2 linked regions of the Homo sapiens genome follow. The protein of the gene in region 2 purifies or fractionates together with the protein of the main gene of each other region. This does not show direct contact. Each region holds a gene or a part of one and is shown on either strand. Other genes may lie near its edges.

What was found.
Region 1: the proteins of ZDHHC23 (region 2) and RRAS2 purify together in Homo sapiens (affinity purification with mass spectrometry; one large-scale study listed by BioGRID and IntAct). This does not show direct contact.

Annotation. Positions count from the first base shown.
Region 1 is NC_000011.10:14,295,577-14,300,793, reverse strand, and holds part of RRAS2 (ras-related protein R-Ras2), read left to right. Parts: intron 1-4,720; exon of another isoform or gene 4,721-4,739; intron 4,740-4,938; coding exon 4,939-5,026; intron 5,027-5,217. UniProt on the Homo sapiens protein: GTP-binding protein with GTPase activity, involved in the regulation of MAPK signaling pathway and thereby controlling multiple cellular processes. Regulates craniofacial development.
Region 2 is NC_000003.12:113,954,511-113,959,727, reverse strand, and holds part of ZDHHC23 (palmitoyltransferase ZDHHC23), read right to left. Parts: intron 3,390-5,217; coding exon 3,222-3,389; intron 1,366-3,221; coding exon 1,098-1,365; 3' UTR 208-1,097; coding exon of another isoform or gene 185-207; 3' UTR 1-184. UniProt on the Homo sapiens protein: Palmitoyltransferase that could catalyze the addition of palmitate onto various protein substrates and be involved in a variety of cellular processes.

The sequences.
Region 1 (5,217 bases), on a different chromosome or scaffold from region 2:
CCTTCCTTCTTCTTTTCCTCCTTAACGTGGCTTCTTTGAATGGGGAGATACTGAGTTGGCAGTTCTCCTTAGGAGGCCAGCCCGAGCTCCTGTTATGCAATCTAGTGGCATGTAAGCAGGATTATCCTGCTTATCCCAGCATAATATTATACTTTGGCATTATTAGGGGCTTCTGACAAACTTACCCAGATCAATTTTTTTTGAGGCGGGGGTGGAAACAGGGTCTTGCTTTGTTGCTCAGGCTGGAGTGCAGTGGTGCCATCATGGCTCACTGCAACCTCATCTTTCTGGGCTCAAGCAATCCCCTGACCTCAGTCTCCTGCCTCAGCCTCCTGAGTAGCTGGGACTATAGGCGCGTGCCACCATGCCTGGCTAATTTATTTTTTGTAGAGATGGGGGTTGCCCAGGCTTGCCAGACCCGATTTTATCTCTGTCTGAATGTGATAGCTTCCCTAATCCTAAATGTTTCTCCACATCTCCTGACAATGTTAAAGAAACTGAAGTTCATTTGCCCATCCATACTACCGGGAAGGCATGCTGCCCTTTGAATGGGAGGGTATTCCTTGTCTTTTGACTAGGATTCTTCTGCACACATCCTTTCATGTCTATCAGGAAACATGTGCTCTCTCCATCCTCCACCCTTCCTTTCCCCTCAGTGTACTCTTTTGAGCCCTTGGGTCCACCCTTCTTCCCTATCCTTGCCTGAACCTTTACTGTCTAGCTCAGTGCAATACTGTGCTTGCTTTTTTTTCCTCTTTTTTTCTCTTTCTGCTACAGAACATCCTTTCTGGGCTGTGGTTGGTAACTTTTTATAATTTCAGGAGAGAGACTGTTTTCTTTTCTGGCAAATTGCTGAGGCTGTGTTGATAAGTGAACGCATACATAGTTCTGTACATAACTGTAGTATTAACTGTCTAACTTCTCTTGCCTTCTGAACAAGCATGGTATTGGCACTTCATGCTGTTTGTTTTTTGGCTTGGGTATAGACTTAAAATGCCCCAATCCTTCTCTTGCCCCCAGTAATACCTCAACTACTGGTGGTTGTATAAAAGGCACTGGACTCTGAAGATAGAGACCTTGTCTTTATGGAGTATCTTTATGGAGTACTTAGTAGGTGCTTCATACATGATCACTGAACAAATGAGTGAGTGAAATCAAGAGAGCAAGGACAATTGGCTGAAGGGTTTCAAGTAGTGGGAATGAGGCTTTGCATGGTGAACAACACAGATCAAACTGGATGGCTTTGCATACTACATAAAACCTGGAGGGCTTTGCATAGCATGTAAAGAAACTATGGAATCCTGTAAGCAGCAGGGAGCCATTTAATTTATATGTTCTCTAGAGGTATAATTCATATATGTACAAAAAAGTGTACAGATCTTAAGTGTACAGCCTGATGGGTTTTTACTTATGTAAATTAACTGTGTAGTTGCTGCTCAGATCCAGAGACTATTTCCAGAACCCCAGCTTTTGTCTTGATTCACAACGTTTGGATACCAAATCCCAGAGGTCGTGTGGTTGGTCTGAAGTGTAACTAGGACTGGAATTATTACAGCTACTCCTGAGCTTAGCAAATCTTTATACTTGAGTAAAAAACACTAATTCAGACCATTTAACTGCATGACAAAAACAATAGTTATTATTATGGTTGACATTTATTAATCAGCATGCCTTGGCACTTCATATGCATTATTTCATTTTACCTGCTTCACAGGATTTTGTTCCTGTCTCTGTTTTACAGATGCTGAAGATTAGACATGTAAAGTGATTTGCCTTAGGTCCCACAGCTAGGGAATAGCAGAGTTAGAATTAAACCCACGACACTTCATCACGGGGACTGATTACTTATTGGTGATCTGTTGCCTCAAATATCTGGTACCCAAGTTTAACAAAAATGTTGCCTTTTTGGTGAGAGGTGATGCCTGTATTTGTTACCTGCACACAGTGAATGCTCTTAGGGATATTCTGACCTATGGATTCTTAGAATTTTGAGAGGGAAAGAGGTTTTTGATTCTATGATAGGCAGTTCCCAGAGTGATGTTTCGTTGGAGGAGGATTGTTTCAATGTGGATGGCTCTTTACAATTTACGTGTAGCCAGTAGATGATGGTCTCTGTAGACAAAGTATGAAGATAGGACACAGCAAAGATTGGGTGTGAACCTAAATATCCAAAAATCCCAACAATGAATTTGTCTTAAAAATTAATATGAGTGGAAATAAATGCATGTAGCAGTATGGCAAAATTCTTGTAATACTAAGATTGTGTTTCAAGAGTTAAGACATCCAAAGAAATGTCCATAGCGAGTAGAGGTAAAACAGTTTATTATACTGGACTTCAAAGTTGCAACAATCTTTTATATAACAATCAAACCAACAATCTTTTGTGCATGTTAATATCTTAATCTCACAACGCCAAGAACTGTCACATTTAAAGAATTCTAGCTATTGTGCATGGCTTGGCATTTGTAAAAAATGTATTTAACATTTGTTTATTATATTTTAGGCCAAATCAGTAGGGACAGTGTAGCACTTTTAGGCATCAGCTGGGAGTAGTCAGTGAAATTCAGGTTTTACAAGATATAAAAGCATGGCATATGGGGAAACATGTTTCAAGAAATGAATCTTAAAAAGTACAGCGCATGCTTTATCCAATTTGCTTGTGAAAGACTGCTGATTCCTGTTGTTTAAAATAGTGGGTGTAGAGAATATTGTTGCCAGTAAAATTTATTTACTTTTTGAAGTGGCATGGGTGCCAAAAAGTAAGTTCATGATTGTTTTGATACCTGCTTTTTTTTTTTTTTAAGGCTAGTTAAGTGAATTGATACCTGTTTATTTTTAAATGGTGATGGAGTGGTGGAGGAGATGGCTTCCTACTAAAAGTTACTGCTGTTGGTGAACATTTCTTTTACAGACTTTGTTCAATACATCATGCATTGAAGTGAAACATCAAAAAACAAATAGGATTATAGATATGGAATTCTGTGATTAAAGTTAAACATTTTAATTTTAATTTAAAAAAAATTTTTTTAAGAGACAGGGTGTTATTCTGTCTTCCAGGCTGGAGCGCAGTGTGGCATGATCATACCTCACTGTAACCTCGAACTCCTGGGCTCAAGCAGTTCTTCTGTCTCAGCCTCCGGAGTAACTAGGACTACAGGTGTACACCACCACATCTGGCTAAGTCTTAAATTTTTCGTGGAGATGCGGTCTCACCTTGTTGCCCAGGCTAGTCTGGAACTCCTGGGCTCAAGTAATTTTCACAAAGTGTTAGGATTACAGGCATGAGCCACCATGCCTGGCTTTAAAGTTATTCTTAAGACTTAAATAAAATGTGGAAAGTGTCCTTCAAAAAAAATATGTAAAGTCATGGTATCAGGCAGATTAATATATCTCCTCCCAAAACCAGGGGATTCTTTTCTGTCCTCTTCAAGAGTGCTTGTTTCTGAGTAGCTCTCTGGTGTTTGCATAGGTCGCCACGAATGTTGGGTCCCAAGAGCCAGGAACCCTTGCCTGAAGAAGGCTAAATACTCTTGATGCTGGTTCCTAGCATTAAGCTGTCTCCTTCCAAATCATTCCTTCAGATTTTGTAATGAGCCAGTGGGAAAATGGGCTTTGAGGAAGTCAGTCCAAAGTAGATCAAAGGAGATACTCAGAACAAATGGAGGATGATGTTGGTGTCCTGGTTAGTGCCCTTCTGTAAGAAGAGGGAAATGCACTCTCTCAGATTATTGTTGTTATCTTTTTTAAACCTTTTTCTTTTTTGGAGACAGGGTCTCATCCTGTCACCAAGGCTAGAGTGCAGAGTGGTATGATCATGGCTCACTGCAGCCTTGACCTTCTGGGCTCAGGTGATCCTTTCACCTCAGCCTCCTGAGTAGCTGATTTTTTAAAACCCTTTTAAATAAAACTGAAATGTAGGCTGAGATTCTTCCCTTCTTACTTGGATACTTTAACTGTCCCCCCCCTTTTTTTTATGGTAATGACTTCGGTAGTTGGGAGGGTTTGATCAGAGAAGAGAGGAATAGAATTTAAGATAAAAAAACAACAAAAGATGTCAGTGAAAGAGTAAGTTTGAGGTTCCTACTAATGAAAAAATTTCAAAATGATATTTTCTTGTAGTACATAAGGCAGTTGAAAGGGGAATAAGACAAAGTGTGAGAAAAGAAAGGTATAAGATGAAATGTTCCAGGCCTCTTTGTGTTGTCTCCATTTTTTCCAGATACTTGACTTCTTAGGACTGATGATTATAATCAGGTTGCTAATTCAAATAGGTCTGAATTATAACTTACTGTGTTTTCTAATTTTTCTAGAGTTTGAGATCTAGATTCTTAACCTTAAATAATTATGAAAAAAGTTGTAGATCTTTTACAGTCTTGCATATTTCAGATATGAAAATTTAGAGATACCTAGTACCTTTTCTTCACGTGAAGGTGCTCATAAGAACATTTGGTGGGGAATTGTCATAGAGGGTAAACCCTAGTACAGTGAAAATGTTTTGATTAGTTCTGGATAAGTGGAATTTGTTAAGCAAAGTTACATTGGTACATTGGTAGGCAGGTAATCATAAATTTTATTTTATTTTTTATTCTATTTATTTTATTTATTTTTATTTTTGAGACAGGGTCTTGTCCTGTCTCCCAGGCTGGAGTACAGTGGCACAATCATGGTTCATTGCAGCCCCAACCACCTGGGCTCAAGTGATCCTCCCACATCAGCCTCCCAAGTAACAGAGACCACAGGTACACACCACGTCGGCTAATTTTTTAATTTTTTAATTTTTTTTTAAGAGATAAGAGTCTTGCTGTGTTGCCCAGGCTGGTCTCAAACTCCTGGCCTCAAGTGATCCTTCTCCCTCGGCCTCCCAGAGCATAGGATTACAGGTGTGAGCTACCATGCCTGGCCATGAATTTTAAAATAAAGTTTTTTCTTTTCTTGCAGTCCTATTTTGTAACGGATTATGATCCAACCATTGAAGATTCTTACACAAAGCAGTGTGTGATAGATGACAGAGCAGCCCGGCTAGATAGTAAGTAAACTTCCTTTGTTTGATAATTTGCATATCATATTTTTTAAAAAAGTAAGCGCTGATGTTTTGCTATGTTAAATAATATATTTGAAATATTAGATGATCTGGAATATTAGCCCATGTCATTTATAAGTTTTGATTGAAGAGTCTGCATAATGGGTAATTTAAATATTCCTCAATAAATGAAAAGT
Region 2 (5,217 bases):
CTCAAAGTTCATACCAGAATAATGTGAATGCCAGAAGGCTGATTTTCACAATTTAGTGCTATAACTGACAGCATTTGAAATACATGAAGAAAATAATCGAGCCCGTGATGTTACTCAGCCTTCCTACCAGAAAAGAGAGTAAAGCATCCCCACAGGAGTGTCTGTTCTCCTCTTCCAGCCACAGTCACAAGTGTGCTAGCACCTTACCTGGTGAAACATGGGAAGAGGAAAAACACATGAATGCCTGTTGGAGTTATTTATAAGAAACCCAAGCAGAATTTATAAAATATAAATAGAAGAACTCATCACCTAAACTCATGGCCACACTACATTACACTAGCAATAATTATCTTTATAACTGTTGTCAACTGTCTTTTCAAGATGAGACAACTTAGCATCAATCCATCTGGTCATCTTCTCTGTTTGAGTAGTTCATGTCTAATAAGAAGGAGAAATTCTCATAACTGTACAACAAGGTATATGCTGAAAACTGATTACCCTAATAATATTGGCTTCAATATTCTAGACTATAAACGTTTTTCTTCCATCATAATATTTTCCTAATACTTTGTATTTCCATGGCTCTTGAGTTGTTTTTTAGTGCTTTCCACATCCATCTTCCCTCACGTGACCCTCATGACGGCTCTGTGAGGTAGCCAGGGCAGGCATCAGTACCCCACTTTGCAGATGACCCTGAGACTTGGGAAAGTGACTCAGCTAGGGGTCACATGGCTATTAAGAATCGAAAGAGGGACTAGAAACTATCCTAATCCAACACTCTTTCCTCCATACTAATGGATGGGAATTGCTTCTATCAATTTGTGCATTAGCAATCCACATCCTTCTCAAGTTCAGGCAACTGAGTCAATTAAAAAGGTGACTGGAAAGGAATGGCTCTACTTTTACTGCCTCAGTATAAAAGTCTCTTAAGTTGTGGCGTCAGAAAAATTAACTTCTTCCCACTCCAGTCTCTAAACCTGAGCATGGCCCTATAATGCCTTTAAGAAACTGGGGATAGAAATGGACACTGAAGTGTAAAATGGAAGGGAGACGGAAGGAGGAGCCATCATCCCTCAGAGAGCCACATAGAAGGCACTTCAGACAATGTCCTCGGCAGGGTGGTGGAATGCACGTGTGCCCAGGGTGGAGAACTGGTGCCAGTTCCGCAGGAAGCCCCTATTGTACTGGCCTGTGTCCACGATGAGCCCGCAGAGGAGCCGGCGCCCAGTCTTCTGTCGGAGGGCCTGCTGGACTTCCCGCTCAGTCACATTGTAGCTGATGTTGATCAGCTGGATCAGGAAGATGTAGGCCATGCCTGCTGTGATGATCACAGAGTACCACACGCAGGTGAAGGACAGAGCCGAGCTAGGAGAGGGAAAAAGGCTGTCAGGGCTGCCGTTTTTGTCAAATTCAGAAAACTGTCATCATTCTCACGTTTTACACATTTTTTTACTTATTACTAAAGACTTTGGCATCTTCCCCAACCCTCCGAACTGGAAGATACTCAGAATGCCAATAACCTGCTTAAGTAGGAGAATGTGTGTGTTTATTCTATAATTACTGGTGCCTATTTTCTAGTATATTACACTAGAATAGCAGGGACTGTTTTTTGCATTTTGTACCCTCCACACACCCAGCACGCTGCCTGACATAACAGCGTTCAACACCTGTTTGTTAAATAAACAAGTAATTCGTAAATTACATCTAACTCATGAGAAAACAAAGGCACCAAGGGACTGCTATAAATGTCTTCTAGGAAGCTGCAGGTGGATGCCGAGGAACAGTGCTAAAGTTACTAATCTCCATTCTTTCCAGTCCAATGCTGAGGAATGAAAAGACGATGGACGACTCCCAACCCCAGCAGCCCTGTGCTTACCTGGATGTAGGAACACCGAGACATTCCAAATTCACCCTCCTAAAGCCCAACACAATCACACAAGGTAGGGAAGCTCCTCTCAGGCTCACTAATGAGACAGGCTGCCAGTTAGCCTCTGCCATTTGATGATTTTCCAACATTCGCAAATTAAGAGTTAGTTAGAAATAAGTTCATTCAGAATCTTCATTTGTAAAAGCTGAAGGGACCTCAAAGACTATTAAATCCAAGGACCTAACCAAAAAGATGAGGTGCTGTGAATCGCCTGCACAGAGCAGGGTGAGAAGCAATGGCAGGACTGTATTCCTCGGTTCCCTCGCCTCCGCACCGAGAGTGCACAGACATGCTGTGCTTCAGGACGGGCCTCACCTGCAGCGTTAGCAGAGAATTTCATTCACATGCTGGAGATACTCTCCACACAGTGAGGAAGGAAACTTAATCTGAGGAAGACCAATCTATTCTAATAATGCCCACAGGTGTCTGGTTCTAGGATGACAATGGGGAGATCTGTCCACAGGCTAATAAAAACAAATGCCACAAAGGGATACTTTGTAAAGAAAGCAAGGATTGTTCTGAAAATGAAGAGTGAGAATAAAGAAAAGGGCCAAACCACAGATACCCCAGAGCACTTATGTCAGAGAGGATGATGAAGGGAAGGGAATAAAGAGCATGGGCAGAGGGGGGCCCCAGCATTCAGGGAGGGGGCGCTGAGGCCGAAGCGGAAGAATCCCAAATTTTGCCATGGCCTGGAAATCTTCACAATCTATAAAGGGGCCTAAGGAAATTTTGACCTACATATCACAGTAATCATCAGTGGTGATTAAAAAAAGAAAGAAAGTAGAACAGGAAAAACCAAGAGAGGTTAGAAAGAAAAGCAAGGTTATAGAGATGTCGAGCACATCTCAAAAGGGTCGGAAGCAGTAAATTAAGATTGGACTAAAAAACATCAGAAAGCAGCAGTAAAGTGAGAAGGTTTCTGATCGTTATGACAAAATAGGCACATATGTGCCCTGGGGCTGCTAGTTTTTGTTTATTGTTTCTGTTTCACTGTTGCGACTTTTGAGCCTATGAGTGGTCATTTGACTCTGGAAGTCCCTGATTAGGCCTGGTCCTGTTTGTAGAGAACTAGTTCTTCACTTTTTAAAGGTCAACAATCCTTTTAACAGCACCCTTGAAAAACACACATCACCAATGCACAATTTTGCTGGCAATTCCAGGGATACCCAGCATTTCCATAGCCTGGCCTATGTTTTGATTGAGAACTCCTAACCAAGTAGTAATAGTCCCTGTCAATGGCAACACCCATTACTTCCCAGGGGGCCTCCATACTGTGGTACCCACTGCTCACCTGTAATTTGCATAAACTCCAGGACAATAGAAAAGAGCTGTGAAGACACTTCTGTCTCTACAAATGGTGTCCAAGGTCAGTGTGATCCCATACACCGAGGTGAGCAAGAAGATCAAAAGGGCAAGTATAAATGCTTGATGATTTGATTCTCCAACGCAGCTATTTATCCTCAAAACAGCATAGAGAAATAAAAAAGCAAACACATTTTTAAGAGTTCTTGATATAACTTACATAATAAACATGAAAGCTTTATTTTTTTTGAGACGGAGTCTTGCTCTGTAGTTCAGGCTAAAGTGCAATGGCGCGATCTTGGCTCACTGCAACCTCTGCCTCCCGGGTCCCGGTTAAGCAATTCTCCTGCCTCAGCCTCTCAAGTAGCTGGGATTACAGGCACATGCCACCATGCCCAGCTAATTTGTGTATTTTGAGTAGAGATGGGGTTTCACCATGTTGGCCAGGCTGGTCTTGAACTCCTGACCTCATGATCCACCCACCTCAGCCTCCCAAAGTGTTGGGATTACAGGCATGAGCCACTGCGCCCAGCCAAGACAAGGTTTTAAATAGGGAAAATGTAAATTCCAGTTATTAAGAAGTTCTCTTATTTTTCAATTTTAGGGAATTAAAAACTTGCACCCTGAGGAATGCAGTCTTATATTCTCTACTCTTCGCAAAGTGGAATCATATCGTCAGTTTAAGGACAAGACTAAGTATAAAAAGCAGAACCTGGCTAACAAATCTTCCTAAATATCAATATTACCCAGCTATGGAGATCTAACATTGTCCTCACCATGTTAAGGAAAGGGAGATAAATAGAATTATGAAAACTTAAAAATGCTAAATCAGAAGTATTACATAGTATGGGAAAATTCATGTTAAATATATGAAGAGTAATATAAAGATCCAAAGAGGTTAGAAACATAGCGTAGGGGGAAGAACAACTTGATAACATGCAGGCTCTTTGGCAGGTAAAAACAGTTCTGTGTCATGGCCATTTGTGGGGCAGAATGTAGAGGGAGTGCCTTCTACCCACTGCATGCCAGGATGCTCCAGTGGGCACATATCTGCTGTTAGGTGAGCCTTCTGCAAACCAGCATTTGTAAATGGAACACACACGCACACACACACACACACACACACACACACACACGAATAAGTGAAGACACAGAAGTAGAACATCTAAAAATGAAAACACCTGTTTACTTCTAAAGACAAGGACCCAGAAAAGAGCTGCCCTGCACTTGAGCCATGCACTTGAGGCCCACGCCAATGCCTCTCAGCCTTTTCTGCACCCTCACCCTCTCCTGCATCCCCTTCTGAGGAGGAGGTACGCTACAGGACCAGAATCCTAGACACGAAAAGCATTAATTCATTGATCACGACTGCCTGAAGAGCAATAAACTGCAAACATGCTACTTACAGCATTCATATCTGAATTAATTATAGTCCCTTTAGTTTAGATGTATTTAGTGAAGCTGCAACATTATCTTTAAACATTGCACTTCATATTTTACGGAGCCTTATGTACCTTCGTTTGTTACTGGCCAACTGGCAGGTACAAAAGCCCATTTCTCTGCAAATAATCAAATAGAGAGTTTATCTGGTGGGACCTCGATTCAATAATGTTAAGTGGAAATCATCGGTAGCATCAAAAACGATTAAGTATGTATGGCAAGGGGACAAAAGAGTCACCTAAAAATAGGGGTACACTTTCTTGAGCTTTATGTTTAAAAAGGAATAGCACAGGGAAATATGCTTATACTGTTTCTGATCAATTCTTTTTTTAAAAAATCATTCAACTGTAGATATTTCTCTATTAGAAAGGAAAAGATAAATGAGGAGTCATTCAAAAGAAAATTGAGAAAAAAAAAACCCCACAAGTTTTCTGTTATTCTCCTTCAGGAAATGACTGAAGGAACTAAATTTGTGAAACTCGAAAAACTGATGACTAAGTGGGAACATCACAACAACCCACAAATATCTACAAGGTGTAAAGCTG